2 separate regions of the Homo sapiens genome follow, and region 2 is linked to region 1. The links come from fine-mapping of genetic effects on gene expression. Tissue or cell type: whole blood. Region 1 holds a variant in brackets; the other region holds the start of a gene. All regions are shown on one strand. Distances are from middle to middle.

Region 1 (8,103 bases):
AGCGGCGTCTAAAGGAGAGACCGAAAAAAACCAAAATGAGTTTTTAAAAAAGGTGAATGCTGCCGGCATGAAGTCATTCTGCCAGCTTTATAAAACAGAGACAGTTATAGTGTTTGTCCTAATTTCAGGCACAAAATCTACCTTTTAAATCACTGGCAAGTGGAAATAAAGTTTTTAGTGTCAGGCAGGGACCTCTTTCCCACCACATTATTTTTTGTTGCTGTTACTTAAACCATGTTAGTTACCTTGGGCTCTCCCCCACTTCATTCATAATCACTGGTAATTTACACTTTTAGTTTTGGCCTTGGCTTTGTTCCAGAATCTCCTAGAGAGGAGAGTGTGCCCTTTTCTTCGTTTTTTTTTTTGTTTTTTTTTTTTTTTTTTTTGAGACTGAGTTTCACTCTGTCAGCTGGACTGGAGTGCAGTGGCTCAATCCCAGGTCACTGCAACCTCCGCCTCCCAGGTTCGAGCAAATATCCTGCCTCAGCCACCTGAGTAGCTGGGACTACAGGCGCGCAGCCCCATGATGAGCCAATTTTTGTATTTTCAGTAGAAATGTGATTTCACCTTGTTGGCCAGGCTGGTCTTGAACTCCCAACCTCAGGTGATTCATCCACCTTGGCCTCCTAAAGTGCTGGGATTACAGGTGTGAGCCACCACACCTGGCCGAGTGTGCCCTTTAAAAAGGTGTAAGCAATCACCATTGCTTAATTTGCTTTTAGTCAGCATGTTTAACTTCTTTGGAATTCTCAAATAATATTTAAGGGGGCATGAGTTAAAAGGTCGAGAACTACTGTTGTAGAATGATACTGCTACAAATGCTTTCTTTTTTTTTATTTTAGAAAAATAACTAAAACTAGGCCGGGCGCGGTGGCTCACGCCTGTAATCCCAGCACTTTGGGAGGCCGAGGCGGGTGGATCACGAGGACAGGAAATCGAGACCATCCTGGCTAACACGGTGAAACCCCGTCTCTACTAAAAATTCAAAAAATTAGCCGGGCGTGATGGTGGGTGACTGTAGTCCCAGCTACTCAGGAGGCTGAGGCAGGAGAATGGCTGAGCCCGGGAGGTGGAGCTCGCAGTGAGCCAAGATTGCACCACTGCACTCCAGCCTGGGTGACAGAGCAAGACTCCGTCTCAAAAAAAGAAAAAAGAAAGAAAGAAAAATAACTAAAACTATGGATATAACAACCCAAGTGTCCATCAGCTGATAAATGGATAAACAAAATGTGGTCCATCAATACAATGGAATATTGTTCAGCCATTAAAAAAAAAAAGAATGGGGCTGGGTGCTGGGTGCAGTGGCTCACGCCTGTAATCCCAGCGCTTTGGGAGGCCGAGGCAGGCGGATCACGAGGTTAGGAGATCGAGACCATCCTGGCTAACACAGTGAAACTCCATCTCTACTAAAAATACAAAAAAATTAGCCGGGCGTGGTGGCACGTGCCTGTTAGTCCCAGTTACTCGGGAGGCTGAGGCAGAAGAATCATTTGAACTGGGGAGGCAGAGGTTGCAGTGAGCCAAGATAACGCCACTGCACTCCAGCCTGGGTGACAGAGCTAGACTCTGTCTCATAAAAAAAAAAAAAAAAAAGAATGAAGTGCTGATACATACTACTTCATGGGTGGACCTTGAAGACATTATACTATGTGAAAGAAAGAAAAAAAGGCCACATAGTGTACCATCCCCTTTTTATGAAATGGCCACAGCAGGCAAATTCATGGGGTCAGAAAGTTCTTCTTGCTTTCCAGGGACTGGAAGGAGGCCTGGGTGGGGAGTGGCTGCTGTGGGGCTTCTTTTTTGTGTGATGAAAATGTTCTGGAGTTAGATCGTATGATGGTTGCACAACTTTGTGGATACACTAAAAACCAATGAATGGTACACTTAGAAAGGGTGAATTTCACGGTATGTGAATTATGTCACAATAAAGCTGTTAAAAAAAAAAAAACTCTAGAGATGTAGATGTTAGTAGAGGTGTGAAATCTACCTACAGTCCCGGCTTAACACTTTCTTGGTCATGGCCCCATTGAGATTTTGATGTCTTTGGATCATCTACCCTGAGAAATGTAAGTACACATGAGACTTTGCATATGATCTCAGGGTCTCACTGGTCCCCATCCAAACTATCCACAGACCCCAGATCACCACCCCTGCTAGGAAGGTGAGCATGAAAACCTGGGACTGCTGGGTGCGGTGGCTCACGCCTGTAATCCCAGCACTTTGAGAGGCTGGGGTGGGAGGACTGCTTGAATCCAGGAGTTCGAGACAAGTCTGGGCAACACAATGAGACCCTCTCTCTACAAAAATTTTAAAATTAGCTGGGCGTGGTGGTTCACACCAGTAGTCCCAGCTACTTGGGAGGCTGAGGTAAGAAGACTGCATGAGCCCAGGAGTTCCAGCAACATAGTGAGACCTCATCTCTACTAAAAATTTTAAAAATTGGCTGGGCGTGGCAGTGCTCACCCGTAATCCCAGCTACTCAGGAGGCTGAAATGGGAGAATTGCTCGAGCCTGGGAGGTTGAGACTGCAGTGAGCCGTGATCATGCCGCTGCACTCCGGCCTGGGTGGCAGAGCGAGAGCCCATCTTAAAAAAGAAAAAAGAAAAAAAGCTGGGACTGAATCTAGCTGATTACTCCTGAAATACACTGAATTAGTAAATGACACTTAGGATGTAGACTGTCTAAGGACGAAATCATGCAGTGAATTGCCTTGTCCTTTACACTTCAGCCATGTGGTTTTATGTTTCAGGTGCCTCCGAAGAAGCCCTAAGTGCCGTGGCCCCAAGGGACCTTGAAGCATCCTCTGAACCAGAGCCCACACCGGGGGCAGCCAAACCAGAGACCCCACAGGCGCCCCCACTCCTTCCCCGTCGGCCCCCACCCAGAGTTCCTGCCATCAAGAAGCCAACCTTGAGAAGGACAGGAAAGGTAAAAGCCTGGTAACATAAAACCTCTTACTCCTAAGTTGCTCACATGTCTCGATAGATAAGAATTGTGGCCTGTAATCCCAGCACATTGGGAAGCCGAGGCAAGCGGATTACGAGGTCAGGAGTTCAAGACCAGCCTGACCAACATGGTGTGAAACCCCGTCTCTACTAAAAATAGAAAAATTAGCCGGGCGTGGTGGCGCACGCCTGTAATCCCAGCTACTCAGGAGGCTGAGGCAGGAGAATCACTTGAACCCAGGAGGCAGAGGTTGCAGTGAGCCGAAATCGTGCCACTGCATTCCAGCCTGAGCAGCAGAGTGAGACTCCACCTCAAAAAAAAAAAAAAC[A/AAAC]AAAAAAAAAAAACAGATTTGCGTCTCACAGATAAAAATCTAGTTCCCTATGGACATCCTCACGTTCATGAGTCCCAGACACAGGTGTGTCTTTGGGGAAAGTTTTGACAACTGCTTCTTCCCTCATATCCTACTGTGTCTTGGCTCTGGCTGAGAAGAACGAGGAGTCCACTGTCTGGCACATTGTCAGTGTGACAAGAACAGCTTGGAGGTATTATGCTTCCTAAGTGTTTTGAGTCCCCAAAGGGAACCATAGTGGGATGCTTTTCCCCACATGTTCTGGTACCGCCCATTTGCGTGTGGTCTGTGTTGTGTGCACATGGTTTCAAGGCATTAGGAAAACAGTAACCGATTCCCAGATTCGCCATGTTCACATGCTCTCGTGCGGCCTCAGCCTACGAGAGGTTCCACAGCTTTTCTTGCCACTTTTCTTGCAGATTGTTTTTTGCTCTCGCTCTCAAGCTTCTCAGCCTTGCTTACTGCTTCAAAGACATGAGTTTGTAAGGACAGTAGCAGCCCAAAGACTGGCATCTGTAGACACATCTGGATCTTCCGTTTGATCTCAGTGTTCTAGTAACGGACCCTCGGTAATCCCTTCCTGGTCATCACAGCACGATGCTGCTTCCCCCCTAGAGAGTGTGAGGGGGGCTTCGGCTTCACTCTTGACAGCGCTTGCTTTGTATTTCCTGGGTTGCTCTTCTGTCCCACATTGGCTCATTGCCATCTGTCCCTTGTCCATGCTTCCTTACAAAGTGGACCTTTTTCCTCCGCCTCTTCCCTGTTCAGATGCTCCTCGACTTAAAATGGGGTTACATCCCAATAAACCCATCGTAAGTTGAAAAATAGCGTGTCAAAACTGCATCTCATACACCTAACCTAGCAAACGTCATGGTCTCGCTGACCTTGAACACACTCAGAACACATACATTAGCCTACGGCTGGGCAAAAAAAAAAAAAAAAAAAAAAAACACCCATCCAACACAGCCTATTTTATAATAATAAAAATAAAAGATCAAACTTCAAAATTCAAAGTATGCTTTCTACGGAACATTAGCGCTTGTGCACTAGGGTGAAGTGGAAAATCCTCAGTGGAACCATTGTAAGTCGGGGACCACCTGCTTTGTCTTTTCTTGTAAAAGCCAGGAGCAGAAATAGATTCATTTTCCCAACCTGCTGCACAGGAGTTAAAGTTAAAAGGCTGTTGGAAAAGAGACTTTCTTTTTTCTTAGTTTGTTTTCTAAAGAACCAAAGAAACACTGAAACGCCAATGTTTAACTAGTCTACTGATCACCTTTTCTGAACAAAAGCTTCATTTTGCCTGTGCAGTTGTTTTCTTTGTGATAGATTTGAACCAGAACCAAGGCAGTGTCAAGGTTTCCATTCTTTACCAATATTTAAGTATAAAAGATTCAAGGAGCTGGGCGCGGTGGCTCACGCGTGTAATCCCAGCACTTTGGGAGGCTGAGGCGGGTGGATCACCTGAGGTCAGGAGTTCAAGACCAGCCTGACCAACATGGTGAAACCCCGTCTCTACTACAAAATACAAAAATTAGCCAGGCATGGTGGCAGGCGCCTGCAATCCCAGCTACTCGGGAGGCTGAAGCAGGAGAATCGCTTGAACCTGGGAGGCGGAGGTTACAGTGAGCTGAGATTGCGCCATTGCACTCCAGCCTGGGGGACAGGGCGAGACTCCTTCTCAAAAAAAAAAAAAAAATTCAAGGAGAAAGTATATCCATTAGTCCTTCAGTTAGCTTATGTTGTAACACAAGTTACTTCACCCTAGCATGATACAGACCATGAATCAGCCCAGGTTGCAACTTCAAAGAGTGTTTTCAGAGAGGTTTGCTTTCAATAAAGGAAGAGCATCACCCCATTTCCTAAAGGACAAAGAAAAGTTTGTCTGATTATTTACTGTGGCCCTGGTTTTAAATTTTCCACTCGTTTTCATTGGACCTGCTGGTGTGACCTGATAAATGTGTGTTTCTCCTGTGCTTTTTCTTTTTCTTACCTGGTCACATTTCTGGCACCCCACACATTCTCAAATCTCGAATTTGCTAGAATGTCAGCTTGGTCTCATCTCTGTTCTCTGCTGGCCACTCTGTTCTCTGATCCTCAGCTGCCTAGTTATTGGCTTCTTATTTACACTCTTTGTCCCACCTTTTCTCAGCCCCTGTCACCGGAAGAACAGTTTGAGCAACAGACTGTCCATTTTACAATCGGGCCCCCGGAGACAAGCGTTGAGGCCCCTCCTGTCGTGACAGCCCCTCGAGTCCCTCCTGTTCCCAAACCAAGAACATTTCAGCCTGGGAAAGCTGCAGAGAGGCCAAGCCACAGGAAGCCAGCATCAGACGAAGCCCCTCCTGGGGCAGGAGCCTCTGTGCCACCACCTCTGGAGGCGCCGCCTCTTGTGCCCAAGGTACCCCCGAGGAGGAAGAAGTCAGCCCCCGCAGCCTTCCACCTGCAGGTCCTGCAGAGCAACAGCCAGCTTCTCCAGGGCCTCACTTACAATAGCAGTGACAGCCCCTCTGGGCACCCACCTGCCGCGGGCACCGTCTTCCCACAAGGGGACTTTCTCAGCACTTCATCTGCTACAAGCCCCGACAGCGATGGCACCAAAGCGATGAAGCCAGAGGCAGCCCCACTTCTTGGTGATTATCAGGACCCCTTCTGGAACCTTCTTCACCACCCTAAACTGTTGAATAACACTTGGCTTTCTAAGAGCTCAGACCCTTTGGACTCAGGAACCAGGAGCCCCAAAAGAGATCCCATAGACCCAGTGTCAGCTGGCGCTTCAGCTGCCAAGGCAGAGCTGCCACCAGATCATGAACACAAAACCTTAGGTCACTGGGTGACAATCAGTGACCAAGAAAAGAGGACAGCACTGCAGGTGTTTGACCCACTGGCAAAAACATGACTGAGCAGCTTTGAAGGCTGCAGTCCTATAGAATGCATACCTTCCTCCCTCTAGACATCCCTCCACCAGAAGAGACATCTATTTAAAGGCACACTGGCCAAAACGTTTGTGCATCTGTCACTCTCGTGTAGTTTACAAAAATCGTGTCTCTTATTCAGTAAGATGGTTACTCAGCCACCAAAATATATTTCACTCAAGGCTTGTACATCTGAAGTTTGCTCTTCAAGGAATGGGAACCTTCCTGTTAAATTCGGTGTATGGATTTTAAGAAAGGAATCTAGCCAATGAGGTCCAAGAAGTTCTCACCCATTGAATTTTTAAATGGCTGTTCAGTTCATGTTGTACGTGATGGAGATTTGTCTTTTGTTTTATTTGCATTTTACAGATTTGGTATAACATTTTGGGGAGCCACCTGAAGGTTGATGTATAAAGTAAGGATTAGAGAAAGAGGTCGTTGTGACCATTAGTAGCTGTCCTGGCCCACTTAAACAAGGTTACAAAAAATCAGAGTCGGAAGCAGCCAAATAGGTCAACCTAATGACTAGACTGTACATTCCCATGAGCCTTCATGTTTAAGTGTGTACATGTGCGTTAACCTTGATGATGCGTGAATCCCGAGGGAGCCGGTGGCATACACCGTTAGCTTAACCTTAGCTTAAACTAGCTGAAGGCTCCTGTGCCATGTCTTAGACATTGCATGCCCTATCAATTACTATAATCCTGAGCCATGGTGTGCTACTGAAACCAATTTTTATCCACCATCTAGTCCTTATTAAATGAAACCTCACGGATCCTTTGTTCCGCTTATATTCCATGCATACCACATAAAAGCACACAGTGCGAAAACTCTTGCTGATACGCGATATTGATTCTCATTGTTAGAATATGGAGAGTGTTTCAGCCTCGTCTGTCCGGCTGGAGCTTCGGGATGGAAAGTGCTATGTGTCCCTGCATATAAGAATCACCAGGCCAGTGTTTCTGGGTTTGCTTGTCTATATGTTTGTCTATATTTTTTGCCTATACATTTTTCCCACGTTTCCAACAGCACTTCTCACCTATTCAATAACTGAAAAAGACATTACCATAGTGCTTTACATTTTTAAAGTAATGTTACAAGGTCTGGAATCCATTTGGAGCAGATACCGTGTTTTCGCTATTTAATAAGAAGTTCAGTAGTGAAATCTTACTGTACCGCCTGTTGTATCTGGGAGCCTCGTACAGAGGCTCGCACAGCAGTGATCAAGTGTCATCCCTTACGTGACTGGGGGATGTCTGTCCTAAAAGCTGACTGCTAGGATAGTAAGGATCATCTTGCCTGGGCTATGCCACTGTCTTGTTACCAATTAGACATCTGGAATTTCATAATTAGTTTTCATTGTCACTGTCAAGATATATTGCAGATTACTTAAATATGGCCATCAAAACAAAAGTTACAACACGTATCTCTTTTCATCTGAAAACTAATACCTGGAAAAGGATAAAAAAAAAAAGGAATCCGTGACCCACAGAGCTAGACAGATAAGATGCATAGTTGACCAGTCATAAAAGGCGGTGTTTAGGTGATCAGGATGCCGTTGGTGGCATTTACGTGCTTTATATGATTTTTACCTCTGTAACAAACACAAGAAATAAACAGAATGGTCCTTAACAGAGTTTGGGGGAGAGAGCAAGATGGGTTCCTTGGAGAAGCTGATTTGCCAAGATGCACATCGCTATTAACAGCCAGAGTCATAAATGAAATGAAATTGAAGAATTCATTCAAATGCTCTTTTCCCTATAACCTCTTTTCTCACCAAAAAGGAGATAAATTTGAAAACAGATAAATGTAACAACCAGTCAAAGAAGCAGGGGAAAAGTAAGCTCCTCCAAAGTTGCTTGCAGTGCTGGAAATAGATCTCATTTTTAGGTTTTCTCT
Region 2 (8,103 bases), 560 kb after region 1:
TCCTCATCCTCCACCCCTGCATCCTGTACATTTTCCTCATAGCACTTCTCTCAGTTTGCAAGAACGTATTTATGGTTGCTTGTTGATGGTGTGTCTCCATTTAGAAACTAAGTACCATGCAGGAAGGATCTGTTTTATTCACTAATGTATCCCCTTCCTTCCACATTGTGCCTGGCACATAATAGCTACACAATTAACATTTATTTATTTATTTATTTAGAGACAGGGTGTCATTCTGTTGCCCGGGCTGGAATGCAGTGGTGTGATCGGAGATTTTGAGCTAAGATGTGTTGAAGTTTAGTCATCCAAAGACCACTAAGAGCTTGAACTCCTGGGCTCAAGGTATTCTCCTGCCTTAGCCTCCTGAGCAGCTGGGATTCCAGGCACTAGCCACCACACCCACCTATTTTTTTAATATGTCTTTTGTAGAGATGGGATCTCACTGTGTTGCCCAGGCAGGTCTCAAACTCCCGGGCTTAAGGGATCCTCCAGCCTCAGCCTCCCAAAGTGCTGGGATTATAGCTGTGAGCCACCATGCCCGGCCTAAAATTTATTGCATGAATCATTTCCCTCATGGGTGTTAGCTTTGCCTCAGACCCAAATGGAGAGAACTGGGGAGTGGAGGAAGATGCAACTACCTGCCTCCTTGAGGGAAACAGGGCTGGCGAGAGGAGGGCAGAGCCCTGACTGACACAAGGCTGCTTGGCCCTGGGTGTTCGGCCTGAGCGAGGAGACTTGCTGGGCAGGCTGGTTGCTTTACCACACCTGGTCTTCCTCTCCTTGGATTCTGAACTTTATCTACCTTTTGAATTCCTTTCTTATTACCTGGCTTCAACTCCCCTGTCCTGGTGTTTCAGTCGTGCGCCTCAGTCCACATGTGATTCTGATGCTGACATTGCTTTGCCTGCCTGCCCTTCTCAGTATCACCTGAGATCTCGTTTTGGATGTTCTCTGCCTACCTGGTTCCAAGCTCTTGGCCCCACCACGATCCTGAGCCAATCAGGAGCCTCTGAAATCTTTTTTCTTCTGCTACTTTGTTGTGGACCTGGAGTTCAGTAGCTAAGTGTCACAGAATTATGTGCAAAGCAAGAGTAAACCGGTTCTGAGCAAACACCTGCAATGGAAGAACATGACACTTGGGACAGCCTTTTCAATTTTCCCCACAACCTTTTAGGAACTTCCTAATTTAAATCAATTTCCTGAATGTCTGCTAGGATGGTGCATAATTAATGCATGGATCTTGTTATAACTGCGGATCACCAGCATGCACATAAATCAACAGAAAACATGCAAATGTGCATTTTAAAAATGCTTACATGATTTTAGCTTTTATACATTGGGTACCACTCTCCAATTTTAACTATTAAAGAACATTTGTTAAATGATCGCGATGTATGACATTTTGAGGCTGCCAGTAAACGGATGAGCTGGTCTGTTTATCTTCACAACTATCTGTTCACTTGTTCAATACACATATATGGAGCACTCCCTTTGTGTCAGGCTCTGAGCTGGGGGTTGAGGCTACAAAGTTGACTAAAACATGGCCTTTATGGAATTTTTTCTTTTAAACGGATATATCTGTAAATAGGAGGGTTTGAATTCTCTAGGCTTATGTGATGTTGTAGTGCTTGGAAAAATGCAGTGATGTGGTATTATATTCTGCCCAACTGATGTAGTCTGTAGGGCTAAGGAATTTAAAATCGTTAAGACATTTGGCAGTTCACCAGATGCCATTTCCAGCACCTTCCATCTGCCACGAATGGATGTCCATCAGAAGCATTGGAGCTCAGACACCTTTACTCGTAACTGCTCATGAATCTTTGGCATTCTGCCATATTTTAGAATAATGTTTAGTTTCTATGCAGTAAGTCAGTGGAGTGAATCTTAGGTTTGTTTTTCAATTTGGAGGTTAGTGATAGGTTGGCAGGTTTGCGTGCAATCACCTTTCTTTTCTGGAGTCAAATTTCTTGAATACAGACTGTGGGACTGGAGCTGCCAATACCTTTATTTAGCAAGTGTGGGCCTAATAATCATAGCAATCAATGAACTGTCACATCAATAAATAACATCAATAATATCCAGCAGTGGCTGGGCGCAGTGGCTCACACCTGTAATCCCAGTACTTTGGGAGGCTGAGGTGGGCAGATCACCAGAGGTCGGGAGTTCGAGACTAGCCTGACCAACATGGAGAAACCCTATCTCTACTAAAAATACAAAATTAGCCAGGCATGGTGGTGCATGCTTGTAATCCCAGCTACTTGGGAGGCTGAGGCAGGAGAATCGCTTGAACCCAGGAGGCAGAGATTGCGGTGAGCTGAGATAGCGCCATTGCACTCCAGCCCGGGTAACAAGAGCGAAACTCCGTCTCAAAAAATAAAATAATAGGCCAGGCGTGGTGGCTCACGCCTGTAATCCCAGCACTTTGGGAGGCCGAGGCGGGCGGATCACGAGGTCAGGAGATCGAGACCATCCTGGCTAACACGGTGAAACCCTGTATCTACTAAAAATACAAAAAATTAGCTGGGTGCGGTGGTGGGCGCCTGTAGTCCCAGCTACTCGGGAGGCTGAGGCAGGAGAATAGCGTGAACCCGGGAGGCGGAGCTTGCAGTGAGCCGAGATCGCGCCACTGCAGTCCCGACTGGGTGAAAGAGCGAGACTCGGTCTCAAAAAAAAAAAAAAAAAAATAATAATAATAATAATATCCAGCAGTGTTGTTCTGCTATAATCTGCAGCCCTTCATAGTCCAAATGCCATCCTGTGGATTTTCCATTTTTTCCTTTCTTCCCCTGTGCCAAGAAGTGTGTTACTATGAGATCATGCTGAGTCAAAATAATAGTAACAGAAGAAGACGATGAGGACGAGGGTGCTGTTGAAACACTCATGGCTGAGGAATTTAATGTTGTAAAGGAAAAGAAACTCTGGCTGACACATATCTAAAGTGAGAGTCCTGTGCTGAGAAAAGCTAAAGAGATTAGCTAAGAAGTGCCTATATTTAGATCTGCTATTGAGCTGGGAAGCGGAGGCACAGTTGTGCTGAAATACCTCTGTACCCCATGAAACAGTGGCTGCTCTGAGCTTCTTGGGTCCCTCTTCCTCTCAATCCTGGTGACTGCAGCCCCTTCCCTGGGACCTCATCCCCAAGATCCAATAACTAAAGGATAACTCGTGGTATAGCAGGGCCTCCGCTGGCATTTGTTCCAATGGGTAAATATTCATGCTATAGTAGTTATTAAATAGTTTGGTGCTCAGTTCTGTGTTTGTGAAAACACTACACACTACATCAGCAGAATAGGCTAGGTTAGCTGCAGAAACAAATGGCCCTACACTCTCAGTGGTTGATGACAGCAAACATTTATTTGCCACTCACACTCCATGACCATCAAGGATCTTCCATGGCTCTGCTTCATGTCTTCTCCATGCTGAGACGAGGTTGCTGGAGCAGCCTGTGTCTGGAGTCATCAAGGGAAAGAGAAGGGAAAGAGAATGAATGGTGGCCCCAGTACTGGCTCGGTAGGTGCCAAGCCTACGTGGCACGTGGCACCTTTGCACACACTTCATTGTCTTATTGCTCTCCAGAGCAAGTCCTTGGCCATGCCTGAGTTAGCAGGGCAGGGACACTTCACGGTGCTGAGTAATACTACCTAGTACACGCACAGCATTTTGAAGGTTCCCCTTGGTGATTTCATTACAATCTTCATCGCTCTTGGCCTGGCTGTCCCCCTTTCTTGTAAATTATTCTTGAGTTAATAGCTGTTCTTTGAGATGTGGTTAGTCATTTACACTGAAGTCAATGTGAAACCCTTCACAAATGTGAGAACATTTGAATATTTGAAGGCTGTAGTCTCTGTAGGGAGTTTCCTTAGGAAGGGTGAAACATTTCACCAGCATCAGCCTGGTCTTTCCTCCAGCTAAAAATGTAAAATGTTGGCATAGAAGAGCTCCTTGATGTGGTTTTGGGGTGGCTTTGCTCCCTGGGTCCCTAGTGATGTGGGAGTAGCCACCGAGGCATGTAAGGCTGGCCACACAGGGTGCACTGCGTCAGCCTGTGCCCGACAGGAAGGGAAGAGAAATACGTCAGTTACTCTAACAAGAAGAATTGACTTCCTTCTCTGCAGAGCCGGCTCTGGTCTCTTCTCTTGAAGCAGATGCGAAGGTAGGATGAGAAGGCATGGCTGGCCGTTGCAGCAGGTCGTTTTAGGAGTGGGGGAGTGGGGTGGGTAGAGATTATAGTTATTGTAACTTTTCTTAAATTTATGACATTGAAAAGGTAGGAAACAAAACATAATAAATTAGATAAAAGATATCTTGTAATTTTATTGAATAACATACATTTAACATTTGAGATAATAATGATTTAAGTGATATGGTGGAAGTGACTTCAGAGTTAATTAAAAACCAAAACAAAACAGAAAAACACTATCCAAAAGCTATATGGTGTGATTTTTTTTTTTAAAGGGTAGAGTGTCATTTGCTTTCTTCTTTGGTTTGCAAATTCTTATACTTACAGTTTATTACTATTTTGCTCTCTCTGAATCGACTTTATTGTTTTGATCATCCGTAATTTCTCGTTTGGAGGTGGAACATAAATATCATTTTGGAATTATAAAAAAGTTAGCTAGGGTCTAATTTAAATTTCTTTTAATTAAGCTTCCTTAATCTCTAAATTGCTTGGTAAGAAAGAGACTATGAGAGGAAAGTGCACATTAGATATTAAAGATTTATTAAATTAGAATTGGGCTGGGTGCGGTGGCTCACGCCTGTAATCCCAGTACTTTGGGAGGCCAAGGTGGGTAGATCCCTTGAGATCAGGAATTTGAGACCAGCCTGGCCAACATGATGAAACCCCATCTCTAAAAAAAAAAAAAAAATACAAAAATTAGCTGGGTGTGGTGGCAGGCACCTGTAATCCCAGCTGCCCAGGAGGCTGAGGCACGAGAATCACTTGAACCTGGGAGGCGGAGGTGGCAGTGAGCCAAGATCCTGCCACTGCAATCCAGCCTGGGCAACAGAGTAAGACTCCGTCTCAAAAAAAGAAAAAAAGAAATTAGAATTGGTGTAGAAAAGATTATTTAGCCAAGATAGTTGGAGATTCTAACTTAGCTGCTTTGCCTAAATGAAGCATAAGGTTTTGGAGTTAAACAGACCCAGTTTAGAGTGTGAGTTTAGGTAAGTTACTTAATCACTCCAAGACTCACTCTCCTCATCTGTAGAATGGGTACATTTACTTCATAATGTGGCAATAAGGATTAGTAGAGATAATGTATGCAAAGTACTTAAACTATCTGGTTCAGAGTAAGAGCTAAATAAATAGTAGCTGTTGGCACAACAGAAAGCATAACAACAATTGTGAGTAGTACCTAGAAGGATATAATAATATTAATTCTCGGCCGGGTGTGATGGCTCACGCCTGTCATCTCAGCACTTTGGGAGGCCTAGGCGGATGGATCATGAGGTCAAGAGATCGAGATCATCCTGGCCAACATGGTGAAACTCTACTAAAAAATACAAAAAAATTAGCTGGGTGTGGTGGCGGGCGCCTGTAGTCCCAGCTACTCAGGAGGCTGAGGCAGGGGAATTGCTTGAACCCGGGAGGTGGAGGTTGCAGTGAGCTGAGATCGCGCCACTGCACTCCAGCCTGGTGACAGAGCGAGACTCCATCTCAAATAAATAAATAAATAAATAAATAATAATATTAATTCTCATTTCTTTGCTCTTCCATACAAAGAGGTCAAGTTTAAAGTATGAATGCCATGGCTTCCTATTTCAGTCATGAATTCCTATTTCTGATTCTAAAGTAATATTTTTTGTTGTTTTTGGGTGGTAAAAGGCTCCCCGAATGAGAAAGAATACTCGGAATCAGCGGTGAATTGCAGTGATCTTTCAGAGAAAGCGCCTGTTCAACTTTGTCCTCTCTCAGGTAGGCTTCAAGTTTTATAGATTCAAGCCCACGTGTGAGTCTTCTAATGTTTTATTTATTTATTTATTTATTTTTATGTATTTTTATTTTTTTTTATTTATTTGAGATGGAGTCTCACTCTGTTGCCCAGGCTGGAGTGCAATGGCACGATCTCGGTTCACTGCAACCCCTGCCTCCCAGGTTCAAGTGATTCTCCTGCCTCAGCCTCCCCGGTAGCTAGGATTACAGGTGCCTGCCACCATGCCCAGATAATTTTTGTATTTTTAGTATAGATGAGGTTTCACCAGGTTGGCTAGGCTGGTCTCAAACTCCTGACCTCAGGTGATCCACCCACCTCGGCCTCCCAAAGTGTTGGGATTACAGGTGTGAGCCACCGAGCCCAGCCTGTTTATTTATTTACTTATTTTATTATTATTATTTTTTGAGACAGAGTCTCACTCTGTTGCCCAGGCTAGAGTGCAGTGGCTGCAATTTCAGCTCACTGCAAGCTCTGCCTCCCGGGTTAACACCATTCTCCTGCCTCAGCCTCCGAAGTAGCTGGGACTATAGGCACCTGCCGCCACACCTGGCTAATTTTTTTGTATTTTTAGTGGAGACAGGGTTTTAACATGTTGGCCAGGATGGTCTCCATCTCCTGACTTCATGATCCACCTGCCTCGTCCTCCCAAAGTGCTGGGATTACAAGCGTGAGCCACCACGCCCGGCCTTATTTATTTTTTTGAGACAGAGTCTCGCTCTGTCACCCAGGCTGGAGTGCAATGGCGCGATCTCAGCTCACTGCAACCTCCACCTCCCAGGTTCAAACAATTCTGTCTCAGCTTCCCGAGTAGCTGGGATTACAGGTGCCCACCACCATGCCCGGCTAATTTTTGTATTTTTAGTAAAGACAGGGTTTCACCATGTTGGCCAGGCTGGTCTCAAAACTCCTGACCTCGTGATCCACCCACCTCAGCTTCCCAAAGTGCTGGGATTACAGGCGTGAGCCACCGCACCCAGCCGAGTCTTCTAATGTGAAGTAGAGATATCTGAGGGACCTGAAACTTGTACAACTTGTGGAGACTTTGGGAAAACAAAGAGGGAACCAGGTACAGGGCATCTAGGGCCTTGGACAGGGCCGTGCAAATAAAGGATTCTGAAGTTGAGGTGTCATTCGCTTCCCAGAAAACCCACCTCTGAATGAGTAACAAGATAGACAGAAAATGTATAAACGCACATCTTCATTTCTGTGTCAGACTTTCTGATGGATATGCATGCGTGCTGTCTCATTGTTGCAAAAATGAGTCTTTTAAGCCTATGAATAGGGAACTGAGCTGAGAGCTGTTCTTTATTCATCACCTTCCTTTGTGGCTGTAATCAGCTTCCGTAAAGAATCTATGCAAGCAGGCCGGTCGCAGTGGCTCACACCTGTAATCCCAGCACTTTGGGAGGCCACGGTGGGCAGATCACCTGAGGTTGGGAGTTTGAGACCAGCCTGACCAACATGAAGAAACCCTGTCTCTACTAAAAATACAAAATTAGCGGAGGATGGTGGTGCATGCCTGTAATGTCAGCTACTCGGGAGGTTGAGGCAGGAGAATTTCATGAACCTGGGAGGCGGAGGTTGTGGTGAGCCAAGATCGCGCCATTGCATTCCCGCCTGGGCAACAAGAGCGAACTCCGTCTCAGAGAAAAAAAAAAAGAATCTATGCAAGCAAAAAAGTCATGAGGTTTTCAGGTAAAATTTCAAGGACAATGCAGTCACTCAACTTTTCCCCTGTGTACGAGGCAGAAAGCATGGTGGCTGCACGCTGAAGCTGTGAAACTTCTCAAGGAAATAGCTGTGGTAAACAATACAGGAGCGAGCTGCCGCCCGCTTGAAATGACCTGCAGGGCTGTGGCTTGTGGGCTTTGAGAACGTTCTGTAGTCTTCCCTTGAAAGCGTGTGTGGTGATGACAGTCACATTCACACGCACTCATGCTACCGCAGATCTCTGCATTTCCACTCTGGTGACGTTTCCCCCGTACCAGGGAGGGCTGAACATTTATTTCCTTTGATCTGATGACTGACTGCTCAGAGACAATAGATGATTGGATGAAAGAAATAGGGGCCCCTAAGAATAAACAATGTGTCCCTTTCCCATCCTCCTCATCTCTTTTCTTCATTGGTTTTACTTTTCTTGTACTTTTCCCCTTTCACCAGATTTAGA

What was found. PIP is the estimated chance that this variant, and not a neighbour inherited with it, causes the effect.
Region 2: SYTL3 starts here. The variant in region 1 is fine-mapped to the expression of SYTL3 in whole blood (INTERVAL, PIP 0.96).

What each region holds. Positions count from the first base shown.
Region 1 is chr6:158,090,177-158,098,279 of GRCh38, forward strand. It overlaps SYNJ2 (synaptojanin 2), which reads left to right. Exons shown (of 27, transcript NM_003898.4): 26 at 2,750-2,928; 27 at 5,442-8,103. The coding sequence ends at 6,188. Among named protein-coding and RNA genes, the nearest start is that of SERAC1, 74 kb to the right of the region's middle. RefSeq lists an enhancer at 5,707-6,207. The variant A/AAAC (reference allele first, on the strand shown) is at 3,275.
Region 2 is chr6:158,645,926-158,654,028 of GRCh38, forward strand. SYTL3 (synaptotagmin like 3) reads left to right here and starts at 4,129. Exons shown (of 18, transcript NM_001242394.2): 1 at 4,129-4,153; 2 at 5,828-5,917.